Regions from separate parts of the Homo sapiens genome. Here all the other regions are linked to region 1. Evidence: fine-mapped QTL for protein levels in blood plasma. A gene starts in region 1. Each other region holds a variant in brackets. All regions are shown on one strand. Distances are from middle to middle.

The links. PIP is the posterior inclusion probability: the model's chance that the variant is causal. Sun 2018 read protein levels with aptamers (SomaScan).
Region 2: its variant is fine-mapped to the plasma level of the PLXNB2 protein (Sun 2018, PIP 0.95). The variant lies in the coding sequence of PLXNB2. If it changes the protein, the assay may bind it differently, which can mimic a change of level.
Region 3: its variant is fine-mapped to the plasma level of the PLXNB2 protein (Sun 2018, PIP 0.95).

What each region holds. Positions count from the first base shown.
Region 1 is chr22:50,303,584-50,311,768 of GRCh38, forward strand. It overlaps PLXNB2 (plexin B2), which reads right to left and starts at 4,063. Exons shown (of 37, transcript NM_012401.4): 1 at 3,970-4,063. DENND6B (DENN domain containing 6B) reads right to left here. Exons shown (of 20, transcript NM_001001794.4): 20 at 5,447-8,185. RefSeq lists enhancers at 1,717-2,916, 2,306-2,675 and silencers at 3,224-3,374, 3,895-3,964, 3,975-4,174, 4,335-4,384, 5,085-5,134.
Region 2 is chr22:50,278,708-50,286,892 of GRCh38, forward strand. PLXNB2 (plexin B2) reads right to left here. Exons shown (of 37, transcript NM_012401.4): 9 at 7,466-7,580; 10 at 7,283-7,391; 11 at 7,093-7,194; 12 at 5,866-5,958; 13 at 5,425-5,506; 14 at 5,126-5,283; 15 at 4,895-5,043; 16 at 4,630-4,738; 17 at 4,343-4,479; 18 at 4,004-4,174; 19 at 3,477-3,606; 20 at 3,147-3,374; 21 at 2,859-3,035; 22 at 2,653-2,792; 6 more. Among named protein-coding and RNA genes, the nearest start is that of MAPK11, 12 kb to the left of the region's middle. RefSeq lists an enhancer at 3,410-4,609. The variant T/C (reference allele first, on the strand shown) is at 4,998.
Region 3 is chr22:50,261,600-50,269,712 of GRCh38, forward strand. It overlaps MAPK11 (mitogen-activated protein kinase 11), which reads right to left. Exons shown (of 12, transcript NM_002751.7): 2 at 6,221-6,350; 3 at 5,970-6,028; 4 at 5,772-5,883; 5 at 5,658-5,687; 6 at 5,528-5,575; 7 at 5,335-5,449; 8 at 4,941-5,012; 9 at 4,627-4,706; 10 at 3,983-4,061; 11 at 3,722-3,895; 12 at 2,114-3,428. The coding sequence ends at 3,349. MAPK12 (mitogen-activated protein kinase 12) reads right to left here and starts at 84. Exons shown (of 12, transcript NM_002969.6): 1 at 1-84. RefSeq lists silencers at 1-22, 53-362, 373-422, 6,184-6,253 and an enhancer at 470-1,201. The variant G/A (reference allele first, on the strand shown) is at 3,532.

The DNA.
Region 1 (8,185 bases):
GAGGCCTTCTCAGAGGTGGACACCAAGCACTTCTCTCTCTTGCGCTTGCTGCGGGACTCAGCTGGGGCAGCATCAGGCCCAGAAATCGGTGCTGGACACTGTGTCTCCACACAGGGCCCCCCATGGAAGCTGCTGACCAGCTGTGCCAGAGGGGCCGGGGCCCTACCCCCAGGAGCCCAGTCCCTGCCTCTGATGCTGCTGCTGCTGGGACCCTGCTGGCAGAGCTGGTGGCTGAACTGGGGCAGCACCTCCCTCTCCTGCCCCAGGCCTGGGCCGGGACTCAGCTGGCACTGGAATGAGGAACTATTGGCTTTCAGAAGCCAGGAGACCTTAGGGGGCTGAGGAAGAGAGCTGGACCTGCCCCCAGGCGCCCTGATCCCAGCCCAGGGCAGTCTCCTCCCTCACCTAGCCTGGGACATGAGGCAGCTCAGGTGTGGCCTTAGGGGCTACCCCCAGGGAAGGCCACCAACCATAGCGGGCCACGGTGTGGGCTGGCCTCTGGGTGTGAAGGGCTCCAGGATCTGGGCTGCAGAGGCGGGACTGTGCGAAACAGAACCCCCAGCTCCACAGCCAGGCCAGCCCCAGGCTCCTCCCCAGACAGACATCCCCGGGGGTGGGGCAAACCTGCAGTACCACCAGGGGCAGCCTGTCCCACCATCCCCGGCACCACTGGGCCTGGGGCCAGTCACTGTCACAGGTTCATGAATCTCACAGGGCAGGGTGGATCCACTGGGGGGGTGCGGGGTGCCAGTGTTCAGGGCCAGACGGGAGGGGCCCAGCCAATCCCTTCACACGCTTGGTCTTCAGAGAGAAGGCTTCTGAGCCAGGAGGGCCACTGTGTCAGGGCCTGGCTTGAGGCCACACCTGTGGCTGGGGGAGCCCAGAACAGTGCAGGGTCCTTCCCTGGTAGGCAGAGAAAGGCAGGGGTCCTTACAATCCAGGGGTATGGGAAGAAGCAGGCCCTGTGTCAAGGGATGTGAAACCACGGAAAGGAAGAAGGTGGAGGAACCTCGACCAGAAAGAGGGAAGCTAGGGCAGCTGCCTCCCCGGGGCCCCAGAGCCTGAGCACCCCCCACCAGCCAAGGCTCTGACCCACCCTCCCCATCGTGTAATTAGTCAGAGACCCAGCCCCACCCCACCCACAGCCCCACCCCAAACACAAACAGCCACTACCCCTGAGGGAGGGAGGGGCTGTGGCCAGTCCCAGCCCTACTGAATCTCCCACCCCCAGAGAACCTGGATCTGCCTCAGAGAAGGGAGGTCAAGGCTGGGGGGCCACTTGCTGGCCACTGGGTGAATTCTGAGCAGCTCACCACCTCATCCCCAAACCGTGTCCAAGGCAGGCTCTGGGCACAAGAGGTTCCCCGCCAACTTCCAAGGAGGGCGGCCAGGCTGCAGCCAGAGGGACGGAGGCATGAGCTGAGTGAGAACTCCCAGCTCAGGGGAAGGCAGCCCTCGTGGCAGAGGCCTGGCATCCAAGTGCCTGCCTAGCTCAGAGAAGGCACAATATGAGGGGCCGGAAGACACAGCCTCTCCCAGCCAGTGCACCCCTGCCCACGCCCGCGTCCCAGGGGGACCATCAGCTGTGGCTGGCACAGGGTGAGGCAGGGGGCAGGACACGGTGAGCACGGACGACGTCCTGGGATGGGAGGAGGACTGTGCCATATGGGCCCTCCCCACCACCTTCCAATCCAATCTCTTCTGCTCCACTTCCCTGGGCCGGGTCCAAGGCTCTGGGCTTTCTGCACTTGGGGCCAGCTGCCGGCTCCTCCTCCCCGATGTGGTCCCCATGCAGGCCGCCGGGCACACACCCCGGGCGCACACACAGCATGGACCCAGAGCGCCAGGTAGCCACAGCCCTGGCCACACAGCATCGCAGATGACTCCTCACATAGACCTATCTCTGGCCTCAGTCTCCCCACCTGCAGGATGGGCTCACAGGCGCCATATCCAGAGGGGGTCGTAGGCAAGGACTGGCTGTCGGAGGGGCTTGGAGGGAGGCTGGTCCGTTAGTCAGGAGCTGAATAGGGAGTCCGTTGGGGCAGGAGGGCCCCCTGAGGGAAACCCCAGTGCCCTCCCTAGCAGCCTAGCCTCGCTCCTGCCTGCTCCTCCCTGGCACGCACAGGTCACTGGCACAGGGTGTGTCCCTGAACTTGGGCCTGGAGGGTACCTCAGAGGCTCTTCAGACCACCATTGAGACTTCTCGGGGCGAGGGGGTCCCTGGGTGGGGCGAGGGGGTCCCTGGGTGGGCCCAGAGCTCCTCCTGTTCCATGGTCTCCCCCAGAGGGGCTTGGGCCCACTGCAGGCTCAGCAGGGCCTGCTGGGGCCAACCTTGGGGCTTTCTCCAACCCAAAGGTGACGCATCTTCTCCCCGCCCAGTCTGGGCAGCTGCAGTAGAAAGTGGCAGAGCTGCCCGGACTTGCCCGTCCTCCTCCTGGGGCCCTCAACCCACGTCCCGGAAGTGGATCCTTCTCCCACGCTGCAGCCTCCCGCTTCGGGTGACTGGACACGGCTGGATGATCCAAAATAATTCTTTCTTGGCAGGCAGCCGGTGGGGGAGGGGGACTCACATTCCAAACCCTTGTTTTTCTCAGTAACTTCCCTCCTCTACTGGGGCAAGGAACCCCTGGCCAGACCTCAGGCCTCCCAGACCCCCCGGGACAGAGGTGGGCCCCCCATAGGTACCGTGGGAGGACTCAGATGTGCCAGGCCCACCTGCTTGCTTCTCAGTCGGCTCTGGGGATTTCTATGCAACATGCAAAAAGCTGACTCGCCACAAACCTATGCCTGCTGGCCCTGCCCTCCGGGAGACCCTCACCTCTGGACAGGAAAGGGAGGGCTCCTCCCACCAGCTGTTCAGCTGTTCCGTGCCAGGGTCATCTGGGCATGGGGCAGGCTGAGAGCCCCCACTTCCCGGCAGCCTCGCTCTCCCACCCGCAAAGGGCTCCTGAGGAAGCTCAACTTTAAAGCCTCACAGGCTGCGCCGAACCTCCAAGCAAGGGCCGAAGTCAGACATTAAGTGGGGAGGGCGGGGGGGTCCAGGGAAGGTGGGGCACAGGGAGCCCTCCAGGCCGCCGGGATCTGCCGGGTTTGGGGCCCACCCTCACCCTCACCCTCACCCTCACCCTCACCCTCACCCTCACCCTCACCCCCTGTCCTGACTCTGCCACAGCCCACAGTGGGCAGACGGACCCCTTTCTTCCTTTCCCAGGGAGCTTCGGGAAGAGAAATCAAGGGCCTGGCAGGAAGCCCCAGGGCGTCCGGGCTCTGAGACCCCCAGATGACAGGGGGAGGCGGGCTCCCCAGATCTGCCGAATAGCCCGACCAGGGGCGCTGGCAGGGCAGGGGCTTCCTGCAGGAGCAGGGTGCGGAGGGGCAGGGTCAGCAGGGGACAGGCAGGGCTCGCGCCCCCGCTTCTGAGACTTTCTGTGTCTCGGGGTGTCCACCCAGACGCCACTCTGGGAACCGCGAGGAGGCCCAGGCAGTGGGGTCTCGCCAGGTGCGGGTGCTCTCCGCCCTGGTCCCCCCGCGCCAAGCAGGCCCCAGGGGGTGCGGGGACGGCCCCCGGGAGCTCGGGCAAATCCAGGCTCCTGTGCCGCTGAGCCTGGGGCCGGCCCGGAGCGCCCGCACCGCGAGACCATCTCCGCTCGGCGCACGGAGCTCGGCGGCTGAAGAGTGAGAGGCAGGCGCGGAGGAGGGATCCGACGCGGCTCCGGAGGGACGCGCAGCCCCCGCCGCCGGGCCCGTCCCCCGAGTCAACACCGGGAAGGGAGTGGGGCGGCAGCGGCCCGGGCCTCGCCGGATGGACCGACGGACGGGGCCCAGGCCCCGGGAGCCCTCCGCGGAGCCGCAGCCGCCGCAGGTCCCCGGGCCCCAGCGCGGCAGGCCCGGGCGGAGCGGCGCTGACGGCGAAGCCCCCCCCACGCCCAGCGAGACGTCCCCCGCAGCCCAGTCCCCCGAGCTCGGTACCTGCACGTCCGCCGCCAAGGCTCGATGGCGCCCGGGCCGCGCTCGGCGCTGCGCTCTGGCCCGCGCTGCTGCCATGGAGACGGGGCCTTTGTGTGGCCGAGGAGGGGCCGGAGCGCGCGGGAGCTGCCGGCCCCGCCCCCGACGAGGGAGAGGAGGGGAGGGCGGGGAGAACAGGAGAAGGGGGGAGAGGGAGAGGGAAAGCGGAGGGGGAGAAGGAGGGGGAGGGGGAGGGGGGAGAGGGGGAGGGGGGAGAGGGGGAGGGGGAAGAGGGGGAGGGGGAGAGGGGGAGGGGGAAGAGGGGGAGGGGGAGGGGAGGGGGAGCAGGAGCGGGGAGGAGAGGGCAGAAGAGAACCGGAGAGGAGGGGAGGGGACGGGAGGGGAGGGGCTGGGCCTGCGCTCCCCGCGCCCCCCACTTCTCCCCTGCCCAGCGGCCACAGCATTGTCTGGTAGGTTCAGGCACCCCAGTTCAGACCCAGGTTCAGCCAGGGCAGCACCCTGCCCACCATGCCGCCGTCCAGGAAGCACGAGCGCCCACAGAGGCCCCATGGCCTGAGCACCCCCACAGGAACCCCGCAGGTCTGAGGGGAGGCCATGGCTTGGTACCAGGGGAGGGCATTATGAGTGCACTCTCGCCTGGCCAGAGGAACGTGAGGGTCCCTGCCAGTCTTGAGATGTGTGGGCACCAGACTCTCACTCCCAGACTGGAAGCATACCAGTCGCTCCCCTGCGGCCTTCAGGGGTGGGGGCTGCTGGGCTTTGGCCCTTTCCCAGGGGTCTCAGGCCCTCAACCTCCCAGGGTAAACTGGGACCTGGAGATGGCCTCCCAGCACATCCCTGGCCTCCAGCAGCACCTTGGGATGCTGCACCCGGGACCCCACCTGGTCCTTCAGGGCCAGGAGGTGGGCGGGCCGAGACCTCTTTCTGGGGGTTCTGGTTTCTGGGACAGAGCTGGCCCCACTTCTGGCATCCCAGGTCCCAAGTCCTGGCCTCAGTGCTCCTAGTGTCCCCTGGGCTTGAGAAGAGGTGGTGAACCGTCTGCAGGGCCAGACCTTGGAGCACGCCTCCACTGCCCTCCCGGAACTGGATGTGCTGAGCAGGAGACAGAAGCATTCCCCAAGCTCTTGCCCCCACCCTGGGTCACCCCTCCCTGGGGCCCGCCTTCCACCCAGACCTGCCCCGTCCTTGCAGCTGGTCAGCTTCCTCCTGTCCCCAGCCAGGCATCCCCTCCTCCTCTGCTTCCCCCACCCGGGATCCGCCCCGCCACATCCTGACAAACTCCCCCAGCCTGACTTAGTTCTTTCAGTCTCTGCCTTCTCCCACCCTCAAGCAGCCAGGCCTTGTTCCTGTCCAAAATCTTCCCTTGGGCCTTGAACCACAATCCACATCACGGCAACCCTACCCTTCACTGCAGAGGACCCCAAAATTACCAGGTTCTGACAAGGTTGCCAACTTTTTATCAAAAAAGGAAAAGACAAGGTCCAGTCACAAAAGGACATTTTAATACCAAAACTGTGGGAAGGCCACTGTTCTAGACTAAAAGGGAGTCTTTAAATAGCCAGCAGGAAGCTTGAGGGTGAGCAGCTGTCCTTCCTGTCCCTGAGCAGGCCCCCTGTGTGCACCCTCAGCCCCGAGCCCCACTCCAGACCTGCTCCCAGCCCTTCCCACCCTCTAGGTTCTGTGGTCCCTGTCCTTCGGGAGGCCTGTGACCACAGCAGTCCTCACCCTCGCCAACTAAGTTCTGCCCAGCAAGCCCTCTTGCCTGCGGGGGCTGGCACTCTGGCCAGGGGTAGAGCTGTCTGGACCTTCCTGCCTCTTCACTGACTGCCCCTGGCCTGGAGTGCGTGGGGCGGGGAGGGCCATGGCCTAGCCCTGGACAGAGGCTCAGCCAACTCAGAGCGGCCCTGACACTGGGGGGGCCACAAGAGGCATCCGGACAGATGGAGCTGGCAGGTCTCCACGCCCAGCCCCCACCCATCCACCCCAGGCCACATTCCACCCCAGGCCTCTTCTGCACAGGTGGGGACAGGCCCTGAGGAAGAGGGGCTGGGACACTACCCCCCACCTTAGCCTTAGCTTCTGCCCAGGGCAATGCTGGCCACCCAGCCCGGTTCCCCCCTCAAGTTCCCCCTTCACACGCCACTATGTGGCCTCACCAGAGCCCTCCAGGGAAATCTGCTTGTGCATTTCTGGATACACAGTGGCCAGGGTCCCTGGGGGCTCCTCAGAGACCAGCCTGAAGCCCCTCCCCTGCAGCCATGTGGGTCTGCAGCCCTCTGTGCTGTGCGGCAGCCCTCAGAAAGCCAAGTGAGGCGAGACTGTGCTGTGGGGAAGCACATGCTGCCACGGTCCTTGGGGTGCGCTCCCCAAAGTGGGGTCACAGTTGTGAGAGAGGTGGGTTGTCTTCCCAAGCTGCCCCGACACCTTGAAGTGGTGGTCCTCAGGGGGCTGGTCACCAGCATAAGGCTTTTGCAGAGGGCCCTGGTGGAGGGCAGCTGATGGCAGGGCCTGTACTGGCCCCCCAGGCCCCATCTTATGGAGGTCAGCATTCAAGCTGCCCACACAAGAGGTGCCAGCATCTCTGCAGACCCTCTAGAGACCAAGCCCTCAGTGGGGAGGCTGGTCCCCCTGTGCTACAGTCAGGAGGCCCAAGCTGCATTTGGGGCCAGGACCTTTCTCACCCTCGGGTCCCCGGCTTGTCCCTGCCACAGAACAGGTTTGCCACCTCGGCCTCTATGTGTTCTGTTTCATGTGGTCACATCCTTGGACCCTGCACCAGACATCTGGGGCTTAACAGCTCCCCTTGGTCACCCTCCCGGCTGCCTCCGCGTCTTGTCTGTAGAATGGGAACAGGGACAGGCTGTCCTGGGCTGCAGTTGGGCTGGACAAGTTGACATGTACCAAGTTCTGAGAACTACCTGGCGCCCGGACACCTGACCCCGCTGTCCTTGTGGCTCAGTCACATCCTGCACTGAAGTGGCTGGCAGTGCTCGCTCTCCACCACCTGGCTGGAGGTCTGAGAGCACCAATGAGAACACAAACAGTACGTTGCGCTGAATGAAGGCTACATTCCTCGGACTGAATGGGGGCCTCAGAAGAAAAAGAAAAGTCCCGGCCGGGCGCGGTGGCTCATGCCTGTAATCCTAGCACGTTGGGAGGCCGAGGCGGGCGGATTACGAGGTCAGGAGATCGAGACCATCCTGGCTAACATGGTGAAACCCTGTCTCTACTACAAATACAAAAAATTAACCAAGCGCAGTGGTGGGTGCCTGTAGTCCCAGCTACTCGGGAGGCTGAGGCAGGAGAATGGCGTGAACCCGGGAGGCAGAGCTTGCAGTGAGCCGAGATCATGCCACTGCACTCCAGCCTGGGCAACAGAGCGAGACTCCATTTCAAAAAGAAAAAAAAAGAAAAAGTCCCTCCCCCAGCCCTGTGTCCCCTGGCCAGCACCCGCCCGGCCTCACAGGGTACAAAGCCCAGTCTCCATGAGTGGCCCTCCCAGCACCCTGTCGGGCATCTGCATGGCTGGCTCGCTCAGATGAGGAGTCTGAGGGTCTGAGTGGTCAGGGGACCTGCTCCCGGGCACACAGTGCGTGATGCTGAGCAGGGCTTGGCTGTCCGGAGCCCTGACAGTACCGTCACTGTGTGCTGTGCAGGGTCAACACCGTACCTCACCGGCCTCAGTGCCTGCAGGTGTCACGGGGGGAGCATACAACCCAGAGGTGGCTCTTAGGGACGTTCACCCCTTACCAAGGAAAGGGAGACATGCAGGCTCCAGCCAGAGGCAGGGTCAGGCCGAAGTCCAGAGCCCCTTGGGCTGCATGTGGGGGATGGACGGACACACTTGGACAACAGGAGCCCTGTCCACCTCCCAGAAGGGACGCACGGAGCTGGTGCCTGGTGGGGGCTCCAGGACTGGGAGCCAGGAAGGTGCTGTGGCTCTCCGAGAGCCAGGCTGAGCCAGCTCTCCTAGCAGAGGTGCTGGGCTGCACACAGCCCCCTGCCCAACCCCTACCTCCCAACAAACCACAGCCCCAAGCAGGTGGGTGTCCAGAGGAGCACCAGGGGTGGTGAGCAGAGCTCTTCACACTGCAAAGTGGTCTCTCCCTTTCTCAAGTTGATGACTATATGCAAAATAGCCTCCCATCCCCAGACAAGACGGGGGCTGTGTCAGGAGAGGGTCCCTCCTGTCCTGGGCAGCCTGTTGGGCTGAGGGAAG
Region 2 (8,185 bases), 25 kb before region 1:
GACAGCCCAGCTTGGGCCCCAGCCACCCAGGTTCCTCCCACTGCCCACCACTCCCATATGAGAAAGCTGGCCAGGCAGGATACCGCCCCAGGACACAGGCCAGGCACATGGGCGCCTGTGTGCAGACGGGCAGGGGCCGGCACTCACCCAGGACCACGCTGTCTGGCCTGGGCCAGCAGGAGCAGGGCTGCCCACGGTACACCTGGTCAATGATCTTCTCCTTGACCTGGGAGATGGTGTCACAGTTGAGGACCTTCACCGGGATGGCGTCCACTCCCTCGTCCTGCACGATCACGCTCACCGTCTGCCGAGACATCCGGGATGAAGCCCAGTGGGAGGCCCTGCTCTTACCTGCACCATGCAGGAGCCACTCCCTGCCCCGCCAGCTTTGCCCACCACAGCGGCACCCTTGGGCAGCAGGCCCCCGCCAGCCCGGCTCCGAGCCCCCGAGGCTTCCCAGATGACCACACTCTGCCCTTCCCCTGCCTGCTCCGGCTCAGCAGGACAGAAAGACGGGGACGGCTCAGAACCGCTCACTCAGGCTGTCACGCAAGCTCATGGAAGCACATGTACAGACACAGAATACACACGTCTCACACATGCACAGGCTCCTGCCACACCCACTGGTCATGTATGCACAGAACCCTGGACACACCTGGTGTGCCAGGCCCTTGTATGGCCTCCAGGAGGTGGGGGCGCCCGGGAAGAGCTGATGCGGGGCCCGCACACTTAGAGCCTCCAGAGCCCACAGCCACCAGCACCCAGGCCCCTCCCTGAGGCCGAGTTAGAGCAGGCTGTAACTCGAATCCACAGAGGAGGTGGACGGCCTCTGGCCTGTGGGTCCCATCTGTGGCCAGGGGATGCCCAAGCTCCTTAGCCCAGATCCGAGGCGCCCATGGCGGCCCCCACCCCAGAAGCTCACCAGGGGTGCGTACTCCACATCATCCCCCAGCAGCCCCGTGTCGTTGAGAGTGTACTTGGCCTTCTTCTGTACCGCATCCACCGGGCCCTTTTCCACCTGATGTTTGATGGCCTTGAAGAGCTTGTACAGGGGCTCCCCGGCACTGTCCTGGAGTAACACGGAGGGGAGGCTGGGAGGTCAGGGGACTTGGGGCCTGGAAGGGGCCCCCGGAGCCCTGGCCAGAGGCATGGACGGGGCTGACCATGTCAGGGGCAGGAAGCAAACCTGTCCAGGCAGGGCCCACCTCAAGGTGCCGTACAGATAGGGGAACGCAGGAGGGGATGGCAGCAGTCTGCCTCATCCCTCAAGCCCCAGCCAGGCTGGGGTGGAACCCACCTTGAGGTACTGGTACAGGCAGATGGACATCCAGTTGGACAGCATCCTCTCCACCACAGTCTCAGACCTGGGGGTGCAGGGAGGCCTTGTACCGAGTGACCCCGTAGTATTCCTGAGGCCCAACTGACTCCTCCAAGCACCCGGCCACCCTTGCGCCAGCCTCGCCCCTGTCCAGCCTGGGTGTGGCCTGCAGCGAGGACTACCTGGTGGCAGCTCCAGCCCTTGTGGGAAGTGTGCCACCTTCCTTCTGTTCTGCAGAGGGCTGACACTGTGACCAGCTGAAACCGCTGGACAGGAAGGGCTAGAGTCCGGCTTTGAGTTTGTGGCCGGGGACACCACCCCTAGACCGCCCCCCACCACCAGCGCTGGCTGGCACCTGCCGGCTCCTGGGGGCCCAACAGGCCGCTGTGCCACCCGCCACCAGCCCCAGAGCCCCTGCGGCCGCCCCGCCCGTGGCCCCGCTCGTGGCCCCGCCCATGTGCACCTGCGCAGCATCAGCTTGGGGTTCTTGGCCACCACGTACTGCTCCAGGAGCTCCAGGAAGAGCGTGTGCATGATGTCCGTGTAGTACTCCAGTTTCCCGTGCAGCGCCACCGTCAGCAGGGACGCGAAGTAGACCTTGGCGCGGGCCGAGAACTCCCGCTGGTTCTCCAGGGTGTGGATGAACTGTAGGGGCCGGCGGTCAAAGCCTGCCCGGCGCCACCTGTGTGCCCTCCCGCCCGCCCGACGCCTGGCTCACATTGATGAGGAAAGACTTGCTGTTCAGCAGGTTGGAGAACTGGTAGAGGGCCTGCTCCACCACCGGCCGCCGCGGCTCAGGGATGTCCAGCTTGCCGGTGATCATCACGTCCTTGTCGCCGTCCTTGGAGGGCAGGAAGAAGACGCGGTCGGTGTAGGTCTTGTAGTCCAGCACGGGGATGCCGGCCTCGTGCACGTCGTTGGTCTGGTCCTCCATCTCGATCATCAGGTCTGGGGGGAGGCTGGCGTGAGACGTCCCTGGCCACGTGGGGCCCTGACCCCCACGCTACACACAGCATCCCCGCCCCAGGAGGCGCCCCAGCACCAGCCCCCAAGCGGTCCCTACCTGTGAATTCCTTCTTGCAGCGGTCCCGCACGCTCTCCTCCAGGCCCTCCAGCTGGGACTTGATCTTCTCATACTCTCGTTCGGCCTGCTGGCTCTTCCTCCTGCAAGGCACAGCGGGCCTCCTAGGTTCTGCCGGGGCTGGCCGCTCAGCTGCCCGGATGAGGAGGTGGATCTACACGCCTGCCTGTGCAGGGCGGCGGATGAGGCCAGAGGGGCCGAGGCGGGAGGGCCGAGGGCTCAGGGTGTTGGCACAGCCGGGGGGCGGGCTCACCAGTAGCAGTAGACAGACACCGCGATGACGACCACCATGGGCACGATGACCAGCGGCAAGATGAGGCTGAGCGGCACGTCGCTCACCCGTGTGTCGTACTCCACGCGGCCCAGCACCCACTCGCGAGAGCCGAACTTCACCTGTGTGGGGGGCCGGGTTCAGCGCGGTCCCGTGGGGGCACCCCCCGCCAGTCCCCGCTCACGCACAATGAACTCGGGCAGGTTGTGTGTGGTGTCTCGTTTCTGCCGCCGCTTGGGCGGGGGCTGCACCTCCGGGGGCTCACAGTACAGGTCGGTCTCCGTCAGCGTCTTCATGGTGCAGCGCTCGGCACCCACGAAGGCCTCGGCCTCCTGCAGCGTCATCGCCTTGTTCAGATTGGTGCCCTGGGGAGGCGGCAGTGGTCGGGGTGAGGAGGAGGGAACCAGGGACAGGTGGACCAGCTCTCAGCCCAGACCCGAGCAGGACCCAGACACCCGGGGCTGCACCGTCCTCACCCGGGCGTGGATGAGCTTGTTGACCTGCTTCTTGACGCCACCTGTGAAGTTCTCAAAGGTGGGGTCAGGCACGTACTCGAAGGCCCCGGCCTCTGTTCTGAGCAGGGCACGGTGCCCGTCCATCTCGATCAGCACCGTGAGGTTGTAGGCCTCTGGCTCCTCAGGCACAGCCGGGGACAGGAAGACGACCTTGGTGTCATTGTGGAACACGTAGTCTGTACCCACCACCTGCAGGCAAGTCCCAGCTGTCAGCCCCCGGGCGCAGACCCCGCCCTTCCTGGGCACGATCCCATGGGCCGGTGCCAGAGCTGAGCCCACGCCAGGACTGACCGTCATGGGCTGCAGGGATTCAGCCTCCCGCGGCGGCTGCCAGGACTGCAGGGGCTCCGCGATGACCACCATGGCAAACCTCTGGATCAGGCTGAAGCCCTGACCCGTGACGTTGATGCTGCGGCCACCACTGCGGAGGGCAGTGCCTTCGTGGGCTCGGCTGGCAGGGGTGGTCCCTGCAGCCTCCGCCCTCCCGTCCCCGCCCACCCTGGCCCTGACCACACGGGGCTTCCAGGTGCATGTGTGGGTCTCGGTGGGCAAAGGGGCAACGCGGTGGGACGTGCTGAGCACGAGACTGTGCCGCAAGTGGGCGGGGGGCACACGGGGCCTGGTGAGCGTGGAGCCTCTGGTGTGCCCATCTGGGTTTCTAGGAGGAAGTGGATCTGGAGTGCAGTGGGGTTTTCCGGAGGCCGCCTCCCGCTGCACAGACCAGCCCCACCACATTCCTTTCAGCACAGTCAGCCAAGGGCACTGAGGAGGCAGCTGGGTGTGGGGAGCAGAGGGGGGCGGGGGGACACCAGCCTCACCTGGCAAAGCTTCGTAGCGGCTCGAAGGCTCGCAGTACGGGGTTTTCGCGGTAGGTGAAGAAGATGCCGGGGTTGGGCACGGGGGACCCCCCGTAGGAGACCTCCAGAAGCATCTGGCCCCGTGTCGCCTGGGGGCCAGTGACACACTGGAGCTGCGCCCCAAACTTCGTCCTGGGGGAGGGAGGGTGCTGGTCTGCATCAACCCCTCCCCCGGGACCAGCCCCAGCCCGACCAGGCTGGCCCCGCCATCCCCTCAGGGCCACTCAGGTCTCAGTAAGTGCCCCCCTCCATACCCAGGGCCAGGGCCAACCAGACTCAGCAGCTGGCGGTGACACCCACACTTTACACGGGACGCCGTTGAGGGTCACCCGCACGTCCTCCTGGGAGCCCGTGTCCAGGTGGGTGCCGTGGATGGTCAGTGTGGTGCCGCCCGCCTGCGGTCCCTGCTGCGGCTCCACACTGAGAGGCTTGGGCTGCTGAAAGAGCCGCAGGGGCACTCGGGTGAGGACGGGGCACAGGACGCCCTCGGTCCTGGGCTGGATGGTAACTGTCGTGGGGAGGCGGCGGGCAGAGCCCCTCCTCCCGGTCCTCCCGGGTTCGGCAGGTCCCCGAGGCCGGGTGCTTACTTGGAAGGTGAACTGGACATTGGGAGGCGAACGGCCCAGTTTCCCGAAGACGTCCACCTCGACACCCCCCGTGAAAGGCGTCTCCGCAGCCTCGATCACACACACGATCCTGGCGGGCGACAGGCAGTGTGGCCCAGGCACTCCCCGACCCACCCCACACCCTGACACCCTCACCCCCTCAGCCTCCCCACCCACCCAGTCACCCGGAACCCCAGCGTGGGTACTGACCCAGCTGACAGGGCCCAGACCAGGGCCGTCCACTCACCGGGTGGACACGGAGTAACGTTCCGGCTGAAAGGAGCAGTTCCGGCCGGCCACAGAGATCCTCTGGATGTCCCCTGCTTGGACGCCCAAATTGGACCCCAGGA[T/C]GGTGATGCGGATGCCCCCACCCAGGGGGCCCGTCTCAGGCTGGATCTGAAACCACAGAGCCGGGTGAGCAGGGAGGGGCTCATGCCAGGGACGAGGGAAGGTGTAGGCCAGGCTTCGAGGGGCTCACCCTGGTGATGACGGGCGGCGGGCACTCGGAGGTGGTGTTGCACAGGGCCTCATACACGCACCTGCTCTGGCCCCCGCACCACGCACACCTGTAGTCGGGGTTAGCGGCCCGGCACAGGCTGCAGTCGCTGCGGCCAAAGGAGCAGTTGTAGAGGGTCACTGCGGGGAGAGCTGCCGTCAGTGGTCACCCCGTGCCTGCCCGCCCCCGACCTGCTCCCCACTGCGCCCACCTGTCCCCCCACCCACCGCCTTGTGCCCACCCGTCCCCTGCCCGCCCCCCACTGCGCCCGTGGCCCCCACCATGGAGCTTGCTGTCGATATTCTTGCCGTAAGACTTGACGTAGAGGTGCAGGGGCAGCGTCTCGTTGGCATCGTGGGACAGCTGGGGGACACGCAGGGGCACACTGCACTTCCTGCCCCCACAGAGGGGCGTGGGGCGGGGGTCACAAGGGCAGCCTCCCTGTGGCCACCGGGTCCCTTCCCAGCCAAGGGCAGCAGGGGAGGCCTTCAGGTGTCGGAAGTTCGGGAACCCCATGGACGCTGCTCTGTGCCACTCTGTCCCCAGGGAGGCAGAGGGCAGAGGGGGCTTCCCCAGCAGCACAGGGCATGGCGAGCCCCTGGCTGGGCTCTGGTCCCTGGGGTCTCCCTGCTGCCCCTCCCCTCACAGTCCTGAAGGTGACCCCCCACCCCACCCGGGGCCCTGGGGTCCAGCAGCCGAGCCGGCCTGCCCTGGAGCCGTACCTTTGGGGTCCGAAAGGCGAAGGTCCCAGATTCCTGCATGGTCACCGGCTCCATGAACTTGAGCAAGTCACTGCCCACGTGCAGGGAGGAACCCTGCAGACCATGCCGTCAGGACCCTGGACAGGCGGCTGTGGCACCCTGGCCCTCCTCCCAGAACCCCTGCAGCCCCTCCTCTGTGCCTACAGTGTGGGAGCCCTCTCCTCACCCCACACATGCCCGCCCCTCAGATTACCATGCCAGCTGACCCCTCGGCCACTCCTGAGCCCAAACACCTGTGTCTGCAGAAGCCTCTGAACGTCCTCTGTGGGTTTCCCACGGCCACCTCCACCACTCATCCACACCTGAGAACATCGCCCGGCCCACCTGACATCGTGGCCCCCACAGCTCCCTCCTCAGGAGGTGGCACTGGCCCCTCAATCTCCACACGCCTGCCTCCTCCACTGCCTCTCTTCAGGCCCATCCAAAGGCCCCCGAGTGCTGCCTCCTGGCCTCTGTCCCCGATAAATCCTGTGCCCTCTACCTCATGTGGGGGCCCCGAGTCGGGGGGCACGGGTGGAGCTCAGGCTTCCCACACACCCATCAGCACTGGCCGGCACCCCTCCCTCCGTACCTTAGCCTGCCTGTCACCAACCGGCACCCCCTCCCTCCGCACCTGAGCCTGCCTGTCACCGGCCGGCACCCCTCCCTCCGCACCTGAGCCTGCCTGTCACCAACCGGCACCCCCTCCCTCCGCACCTGAGCCTGCCTGTCACCGGCCGGCACCCCTCCCTCCGCACCTGAGCCTGCCTGTCACCGGCCGGCACCCCTCCCTCCGCACCTGAGCCTGCCTGTCACCGGCCGGCACCCCCTCCCTCCGCACCTGAGCCTGCCTGTCACCAACCGGCACCCCCTCCCTCCGTACCTGAGCCTGCCTGTCACCGGCCGGCACCCCTCCCTCCGCACCTGAGCCTGCCTGTCACCGGCCGGCACCCCTCCCTCCGCACCTGAGCCTGCCTGTCACAGCCGGCACCCCTCCCTCCGCACCTGAGCCTGCCTGTCACCGGCCGGCACCCCTCCCTCCGCACCTGAGCCTGCCTGTCACAGCCGGCACCCCTCCCTCCGCACCTGAGCCTGCCTGTCACCGGCCGGCACCCCTCCCTCCGTACCTGAGCCTGCCTGTCACCGGCCGGCACCCCTCCCTCCGCACCTGAGCCTGCCTGTCACCAGCCGGCACCCCTCCCTCCGCACCTTCACGGTGTCCAGGTTCTTGCCCTGGAAGTTCACATCTGTCTCGTGGTTCATGGGGATCACCAGGGGGCTGGGTCCCAGGAACTGGGGACAGCTGTCCTCCTGGGAGAGTAAGGCTGGTCAGGTGCTGCCTGGGCACAGCGGAGCAGCCATGCCCTGAACAGTCCCCTGAGGCCCCGAGGCCCCTCACCATGTGGGCACGGACGATGCCGTCCTCAGGGTTGGGCGAAGCCTCCCGGCACTCGTGGTAGCGCAGGTCCCACTGGCAGGTCCAGCGGTTGCTCACGCAGGAGATGCACCTGCATCCAGAGGGGATCGTGAGCAGGGCTGGGGTGGACGGGCAGGGTGGGGTCGATGGGCACAAGACACTCACGGCAGGTTCTCCTCCAGGCTCATGGCCTGGCGGCAGTCGTAGAAGGGGTACTGGTAGGACGTGAGGAAGATGTTGCCTCGTCTAAGGAGGAGCTGGATGGTCACGGCCACGTGGTCTGCAGACAGCAGAGGGGGAGGTGTCAAGGTGGCGGCCGCAGGGCCGAGGGCCAGGCTGGGCCTCCCCTGGGGCTGACTCCTGGGGCCAAGGTGGAGACCCCTGGTCTTCAGGGGGCCCTGCCAGGACGCCCCGCATTCATGTTGGGCGGGGCCTGCCACCTGCTATCAGATCTCGGGTGGGGCTGCCAGGACGCCCGTTCACGCTGGGCTGGACCTGCCACCTGCTATCAGATCTTGGTTCGGGTGTCGGGCGCAGCACCGGGCTTGCCTTTCTCCCCCGGGTCCAGGTTGCTTTCATACCCTCTGTTCCCGCAGGCACTGAGGGCAGCGGCTCCTTGGAGTCTGAGTGGGACCTGCCAGGTCCCTGCCCACGTCACTGCGTGGCCCCACTGCCCCCAAAACTCAGGGGACATGGGCGCGACGCCTGCCCTGGCCCACATGCGAGGCCCTGCAGCCTCTGGGAACGGCCCTGCTCTCTGAAGCTGGACATGGCAGGAAGGGGTGAGGGGCGTCTGCCGAGACGACGGGGCCTGGCGCCTGGCACCCACATGCCGCTCCGGACGTGATGAGGGAGCAGGCTGAAGACAAGTCACCTTTGCTACAG
Region 3 (8,113 bases), 42 kb before region 1:
GCTCCGCGCCGCTCGTCCGCTCGCCCGCCCGCCCGCCGGCCGCTGGGGCGCTCCCGCTCCCGGCCCTTCCCTCAGGGATGTCCCAGGTGCCGACCCCGGCCCGACCCCGACCCAGGCTGCGCACGGCCCCTCCCCCGCCCGGGGACCAACCGGCCCGCGGGCGGCGCGCACGTGACGCCCTCGCCCGCCCTCCGGCCCCTCCGGAAACCCGAGGCGGCCGCCGCCGGGGGAGGGCCGGAGCCTGGGGAGGGCCGGAGCCTGGGGGGAAGCGCAGGGGGAGGGGAGCGCCGCCCCGCAGCTTCGTCCCCATAAAGGGCCGGACGCGGCGCGGAGATACCTCTGCCAGCCTCTCCCCTTTGGCTGAACTTCCCCGCCCTGGGGGGGTCTCAGCAGGAGCCCCCCCCCCCCCCCCCCGCCCGCTCCAGTCCTAACTCCCCACGGCTCCAGGGCGCAGGGCCCATCCTTGACAGCCTGAGCGCTGACTTCTATGGCAGCCGCAAGTCGGGCTGAGCCCTGTGTTCCCGGGGTCAACTTCGCAGGCCACCCCCAAGGATGCCCTACCACTGAGCCTGATCCATCCGTCCCCCAACAAGGGGTCCATCTGCACCTGTCCTGCCTGTATCCCTCTTTCTACACGGAGGGGTCTGTCCCCCAAACTCCTCAGGCTGCATCCCCAACCCCACTCCTGTGGCCACTGACCCCGGGCCTCTCAGTCCCATAGGTCCCCGTGGGCCCTTTTGGACCCCCAGCTCCTCCCCCTGCTCCCCCCATCTGTGGGGTGCCTGCTCCAAGCATTGCAAGTACTGGTGTCTCTGCCCATCCCACCCCTGCCTGTCCTGTCCTGCAAAACCCAGGCTGAGAGTGGCTGCACTCTCTCCAGCAGGGATGGGGACCTGCTGGGGCCCTCCGCCTGACCCCTCTGTGTGGGCATTGTCCTCCCATAGGTCTGGCCCCATCCTGGACCAGATGCTCCTGAGGGCAAAGCCCCACCCTGACACCCCTTCACCAGCCCAGGAACCTGGATCTCAGAAGGGATGTTGGGGCACCCCAGGAGCCCACTGGGCTGGTGGGTAACAGGATCCCTAGGGCCTTCTGCCCCGCCCTCCTGCCATGAATCAGCAGCTCAGCCGCTCAAGGGTGGTAGTAGCTTTACACCTGGGCTTGGGCCGTGCTCCACGGCATTCACCAGCTCGTGACCAGTGAGCGGGGCAGCCCAGGGCCACCCAAACCACAGCTGCCTGTGGCCCATACCCTTTGTGCCCTGGGCTGCCTGTGGCACTCCATCCACCTCTTCCAGGAAGCCCAGCTTCCACGCTGTCCCCCTTACTCCCCGTGGTGGGGCTCAGGGGTCCAGCAGGCCCTGCACGGACCAGGCTTCTGAGGTGGGGCTGTGTCACCATTCTCCTCCCACCCCCAACCGCCAACACTGGACTTCCCCCGGGATTGACCACTACACTGACCAGGCCCCAGGAGGCCCCCAACTCCCAGACGGTTTCCACCCCTACCCAAGACCCAAGCAAGGGCACAGACTGTCCCTGGTCCTTAGAGACACTGCCTGACCCCAAATGGCCTGGACCCTCCCCCACACATAAGCTGCAGCGCGTAGTGGGAACGGGACCAGCGTGCACATTCCCTGGGTTAAAGTGGCCTCTTTTTCCTTCACCAGGAGGGAAAGGAAAGCTATTTTCCCTACCCTGCCCAGCCCCCACCCAGGGATGGGCAGACCCTTGCTCCTTGAGACACCCAACTTCTCCCCAGCCAGCTTCCCTGAACACTGAGGGGTAGGCGGGGGTGGTGTCTGGATCTTGGCCCAAAGCCAAGCCTGCCCAGTACATCCCCACAGGGCAGCTGGGGTCACCATCTGGGTGGCTGTCACACCCTGTGCCCTCAAAGTCTGCCCATCAGCCATGTCTTCCCCTGGTCCCCCTGGGCTCTCAGACCCTCCAGGGAGCAGGGAGGGTGCCAGAAGATGGCCGCTGGTCTGACTGGGGGCCTGAGGGATCTGGCCAGCTGGAGGTGAGTGATGCAGGATGACCCAGACACTCCCCCCACGCCCAGCAGCAGGGATGGTGGGGGCACCCGGGCCTGGAGTAGCCTTTGGATACAAGCCAAGTGAGAGAGAACCCCCTTTATTGTGCACCCCTGGTGCAGGCACTTGACACCCAGGCTTCCCTGGGCCCCTCGAGGCAAGAGGTCACCCCCTTTCCAGGGCAGAGCCACACCCCCAACTCAGCTCTGGGCAGGGTCCCGTCTCCGAGGTTACTGGATCAGCTCCATCCTGGGACAAGGAAAGAGGACTGACCCACAGACCAGAGCACCTCAGATCTCCGGCTGCAGGGCCACAACGGTGGGCAGAGGTAGAGAGCGGGCCAGGGTGCAGGGCAGAAGTGTCCGAGTCCAAGTCCACATCCAGGTGTGCTGCCTGCCCTAGCGTCCTCAAGGCCAAACCACCCACCCACCCACCCCCAGCCTCAGGAAGCTGCTGTGGGTCCCACATCCAAGGAGAAAGCCCCTGCCCATGCTCATGTGGTTGCCCTTTGGCCCACTGGAGCCGCCAGTCTGAAACACCCCTCAAGGCATCAGGAACCGAGGAGAGGGAAGGCAACAGCACACCCACCCCGGCTCCAGCTTCTTGCCAGATATGGCTGCTGGCCTTGGGCGCCCACAGATTCACACGCACCACATCACATGTGCCCTGACATATGAACACGGGGAGTGCACGCTCATCCACACGTGCCCACACACACCCACGGGTGAACACAAGACTCCAGGCAGCTTTTCTCATTTGACACCTGGTGGTTGTCCCTGCCCAGCCTGGTGGCACACTGGCTCTGCCTCTCCTCTTAGACCTGTGGGTCTCAGCAGTGACCAAGACAGCCCCCTACCTCCAGGCTGAGCAGCTCTAACCACTGAGACCTCTCCCTTTGAGTCTCCCGGGGTCCCGGCCCCAGCGCGTCCTCCAGAAAGCCCTGGGACAGAAGAGAGCCCAAGGCTGACACTCCCTTGGGTCGGCCTGGGACAGACAGGGGAACTCCGCAGGGGAACCCCTTTGGCATCTAGGACCCCACAGTCAGGTCCCAGTGGAGAGTGCAGTAGCCAGAAGAGGACAGGAGGACCAAGGTAGGCCCAGGGACACTTGTGCCCAGACTCCTACACATGGCAAGCACATGTACACACATGTTTGTGCATGCATACATGCGTGTAGATTCTCCTGAAGGCGAGGGGTCCTAGGCCAGAAGTCTGTGACCATAGGAGTGTGGGAGGTGCCTCTCGAGGAAACCAGGCCAGCTGTGGAAGGGTGCAGGCCCAAGCCCCTCCACAGGCTCTCAGGGGCTGCTGGGCAGCACCTCACTGCTCAATCTCCAGGCTGCCAGGTGGCTTCGGTGGCTCTGGGGGCTTGAAGCTGAGGACTTCCTGGTAAGTGAGCTCTAGGAGGTGAAGGGAAAGGGTGAGCTTGTGCCTCCCACAGCCCGGCCCCTCACCTGCTTGTCTGGCACCTGCCACCCAGCCCAGGCCCACCACCCTGTGACA[G/A]CAGCCTCAGCACAGTCTGGGAGCCAGAACCTGCCCTGTGTCACTCCTCCGCCCCGCTCCCAGCCTGTGCTGGACACCTGAACGCCCTTCCACACCTGACCAGTCTGGAGAGGAACTGGGGCATTTCCTGCCTCTGGGGAAATGGAGCCCGCAGGCCCCTGGACCCACCCCCAGCCACTGCCATGCTCACCCTTCCACTCCTCCAGCGTGCGCTCCTTGGCCTCAACGCTCTCATCATATGGCTCGGCCTCTGGCTCATCCTCGGGGTCGTGGTACTGGCTGAAGTAGGCGTGGGCCAGTGCCTCAGCTGCACTGACCCTCTGGTCACTGTCCAGCACCAGCATCCTTCCAAGGAGGTCTATGGCTGCAGGGAAGCCAGTGGTGGGGAGGGGGGTCAGCTGTACATCCAGGGCCAGATATGGAGCCCAGTCTAGCCCAGGGCAGTCCTCACCCAGGGGGTTGGCTCCACGGAAGATGCTGCTCAGGTCCTTCTGGGGCATGGGGGGCAGGGACTGGATATATGTCCGGGCCTGGGGGCACACAAGAACACCTGGGGAGGCTGCTCACTCTCTGCCTCCCTGGCCCCAAACTGGGGCTTCTCTTGGCAAGCCCCCAGACTCATTCACTCCAACAGGCCAGGACAAGGGCACAGGCAGACCAGTGACCCCCTCCATATAGGATCTGGTGGTTCTAGCTCCTCAGTTGGCCCCTAATGCCTGCAGGAGCTGGGTCCAAGTACACTCCCTCCACCCAGCCCACCCCCACTGCCCTGGCCAGGCACTGCTTGCTGGGGTCCCCCAGCCCACCCCCACTGCCCTGGCCAGGCACTGCTTGCTGGGCCCCCAGCCCACCCCCACTGCCCTGGCCAGGCACTGCTTGCTGGGGTCATGGCTTTGCACTCACTGTCCCTGGTGTCAGGAATGTCTTCCCCCTTCTCCTGTTTCCCCTGCAGGGATTGGGCACCTGCCCTAGGCTCTATCCCACCACATCCCATGTTCCCCATATGGTCCCCGCATTTCCACACCACCCTCTCCCCCAGAGAGCCTGGGGGCTCAGCCAGGAGAGGGAGCTGCTGGCTGGCGGGCACCAACTCACGTGTTCTGAGGAGATTTTTGCCAGAACCTCAGGGCTGGGTGTGCCCACCACTTCCATGATGCGCTTCAGCTGGTCAATGTCTGTGTCACTCAGGAAACACCCACGGGCCAGCCACAGACCCCTCCTGGGCCCCCAGACCCAAAACTTTGGGGCGCTGCCCAGAGCCCGCTCTCCTATAGGTGAGGATGGCCAGCCCAAAGTAGCATAGCATGGGGGGCAGAGGAGGCAAGACCCGCCAGAAGGGGCCAGCGCTGGTCCCTACCCTACAGGAGGGGCCCTGTTTGACCCTGCTCCCCAACCTGGGCCAAGGATACAGTCGCTTCCCGGGAAGAGGGCCTTGCCCTGGAGCAGCTCAGCCATGATGCAGCCCACGGACCAGATATCCACTGTGCGAGGGCGAGGGGACCTCCATCAGTGTGCCCACCCCACGTCCCTCCTCCAGGAGACCCACAGTCACATCCAGACCCCAAGATGGGCAGACCCCCTCCTCTGCCATACCCAACCCCCCTAGGCAGGGGGAGGTCCATAGCTGCACAGCCAGAGGAGGCCAGCACCCATCATGCTCTAGCGGCCTCTGAAGGGCTACTTTTGAATGTGGGTCCCACATTCTTGGGGACCTTGCCTGCCCCCTAAGACCTGGCATGCAGAGCCAGTCGAGGGCCAGACGAGGCCCTTGGCCTTCGTCCCCCCAAGGCCTTCCCCCTGCACCTGTTTGGTTGTAATGCATCCAGTTGAGCATGATCTCAGGTGCCCGGTACCAGCGCGTGGCCACATAGCCGGTCATCTCCTCGTCCGCCTGGCGCGCCAGCCCAAAATCCAGGATCTGGGGCGACCACGTGGTGTTCTCAAGCTCCGCACGGGCTCCGCCGCCGCCCTGCCCACCCCTGCCCACGGGCCTCACCCTGAGCTCACAGTCCTCGTTCACAGCCACGTTGCTGGGCTTCAGGTCCTGCAGGTCACGCGGAGCGTGAGCACAGGAGGCTGGGACGGAGCCCTGCTGGACCCGACCCTCACCCTGCGGTCGCACCTACCCGGTGGATGATCCCGGCCGAGTGGATGTACTGCGGGAGGGGGATTGTGGTGAGCGCCGGGCCCGGCCCGCCCGCCCCCCTGCGAGAGGACCCGCGAAGCCCAGGGCGCCCCACCTTCAGCCCGCGCAGCAGCTGGTAAACCAGGAATTGAACGTGCTCGTCGCTCAGCGCCTGGCACTTGACGATGTTGTTCAGGTCGGCGCCCATCAGGGTGGTCACCAAGTACCTGGGGCGGGGTCAGGGGGTCAGGACAGGGCCCCACCGCCCCACCGCGAACGCGCTCCCCGCTGCCTCGCCCGCCCCGCCGCTCACACTTCGCTGAAGTCCTCGATGGACGTGGCCGGCGTGAAGACGTCCAGAAGCCCGATGACCTAGGTGGCGGGGGGCGTCAGGGCCGGGCGACGAACCCCCGGCTGTCGTTCAGCTCCCCCCGGGCCACGCCCCCAGTGCCAGGCCGCGCCCCCTGTGTCCCCGCCCCCATCGCCAGGGCTCGCCCGCCTATTGGCTGCGCCGCGGCCCCGCCCCCGCACGCGCCCTCCCCCCACGGCCCTCCCCCGGCTCACGTTCTCGTGCTTCAGGTGCTTGAGCAGCCGCAGCTCCCGGTACGTTCTGCGCGCGTGGATCAGCGACTGGAAGGGGCGCGACAGCTTCTTCACCGCCACCTTCTGGCGCAGCCGGGCGTCGTAGGCCGAACTGGAAGGCGGGCGAGTGAGGCGGCGCCGGGAGGGGTCCGAGGGCGGCCGCACGCGCGTGGACCCGGGCGGCGTCCCTCTCGCCGCTTCTCCGTGGGGATGGGGCCGTGGGGCTTTTCTGCCCCGGCCCCGCCGCCCCAGCTCGGCCTCCCACCCTCGGGCCTACCCACTCCGCGCTTGCTGGGAAGGAGCCCCTGGGGCTGGACCACCATGCGTGTGTTCACCCCACAAGGTCCTGGACCTTCTCTGTCCCCTGGCCCCACTGATTCCCACGCTCAACCAGGGGCCCCCATTCAAAGCAAGGCTGGGGGAGAGGTGCCCCATCCAGCGTGGAAAAACACAGCAGGAAAACAGTCACTGGCATTCACCTGCAGCAGACGGGCCTCCCTCTGCCCCATAGACCCCATGGGCCCAGGAGGCTCACAGAGGGGGATTCTAGAGCCACCTCAAAGCCCCTGGACCCCTGGTGCCTCCGAATGTTCAAAATACGGAGGGAAAGTTGGTCAGAGGTGTTTATTGCATCATTATTTGGAACAAAACCGGGACAGAAGGTGATGTACAGCTGAGGGCGTCAGCTGGACCCACAGAACAGCCCTTCGCCCAGCCCCACTTCCCAGAGGTCCAGACCCTCTACCCTGCACCAGCTTCCTGAGCCCACCCTCCCTTTGCAGGTGACCCTCATCCCACCCTCCCATGTCCCACTGCCCTCAGCCCTGCTAAAGGAAAGGCCTTTGCACAGCCTGTTCCCTCTGGCTGATACTTGCTTCTTCTCTCCCTCCCACTTCTGTCTCTTGGGATCCTGTCTCAGAGCAAGTGGAGGCTGAGGCCACCCCCCATGCCCACACAAGGGGAGCAGGAGCGGCTCCTGCTGGGTCTGGGATGCTCATGGGCGCAGGTCGAGGTGCCTGGGGCAGCCATGCTCCCAGCCTATGACCAGGGAAAGGTGCTCCTGAGGTGGTGAGGGGAGTGGCCCTGCACGTGGGGCAGCAAGTTCTTTTGGCCAATTGCATCTGTGCGGTCAGGTGACAGGGAATTGGCACCTGGCCCGCAGCCTTGGCAGTGGAACTAAGAAAATGGGCCAGGGGTGCAAGGGGGGAGACCAGGCCTCACTCAGAGAACCGGACACCTCTCAGCAACTCCCAGACGGCGAGTCCAGCCATGACCCACCCTAGTCCCCTATGGCCACTCCCACACCGTCCCAGACCCTCTTCCTGCCCTTCAGGTCTCAAAGAGGAAGACAGATCTGTGCTGGCATGATGGCTAGAATGACCCACCTACAGCTTCTGATGGAAGGCTAGGGACCACACCAGAAGACAGCCTGCCCTGGGACCCCCGGCCCCTGATGCCGGCTCCTGAGCTCCAAATCTGGTGGGCCTAGAGGTCCCACTTCCAACCTGCAAGTGCCTGGGGCAGAGCTCTGCCCTGGCTGCCTCTGCCTTTGCGCCCCACCAGGACCCCCCAGTGGGCAGCAGCTAAGCGGCATTGGCCATGGTGAGGACTCAGCTGCACCTCTCAAAGCCTGTACCCATGATCAGCCTCCCAGTCAACATGGAGGCTGAAACTTAGGACTCCCGGTAACTACCTCACCCTAAGCCCCTCCAGCCCTGGCTACCCGGGTCTAACAGAGACCTTGGCCCAGTTGACCCCCCTCCCCCACCCAGACTCTGTCGTCTTCCTGGGCCCCAGGCCAGGTCCTCTGGCCCCAGGGCCTAAGTGGGGTTTGTGGTCTGAGGGGGAGTCTGAGGCCATCCCAGGGGGAGAGAT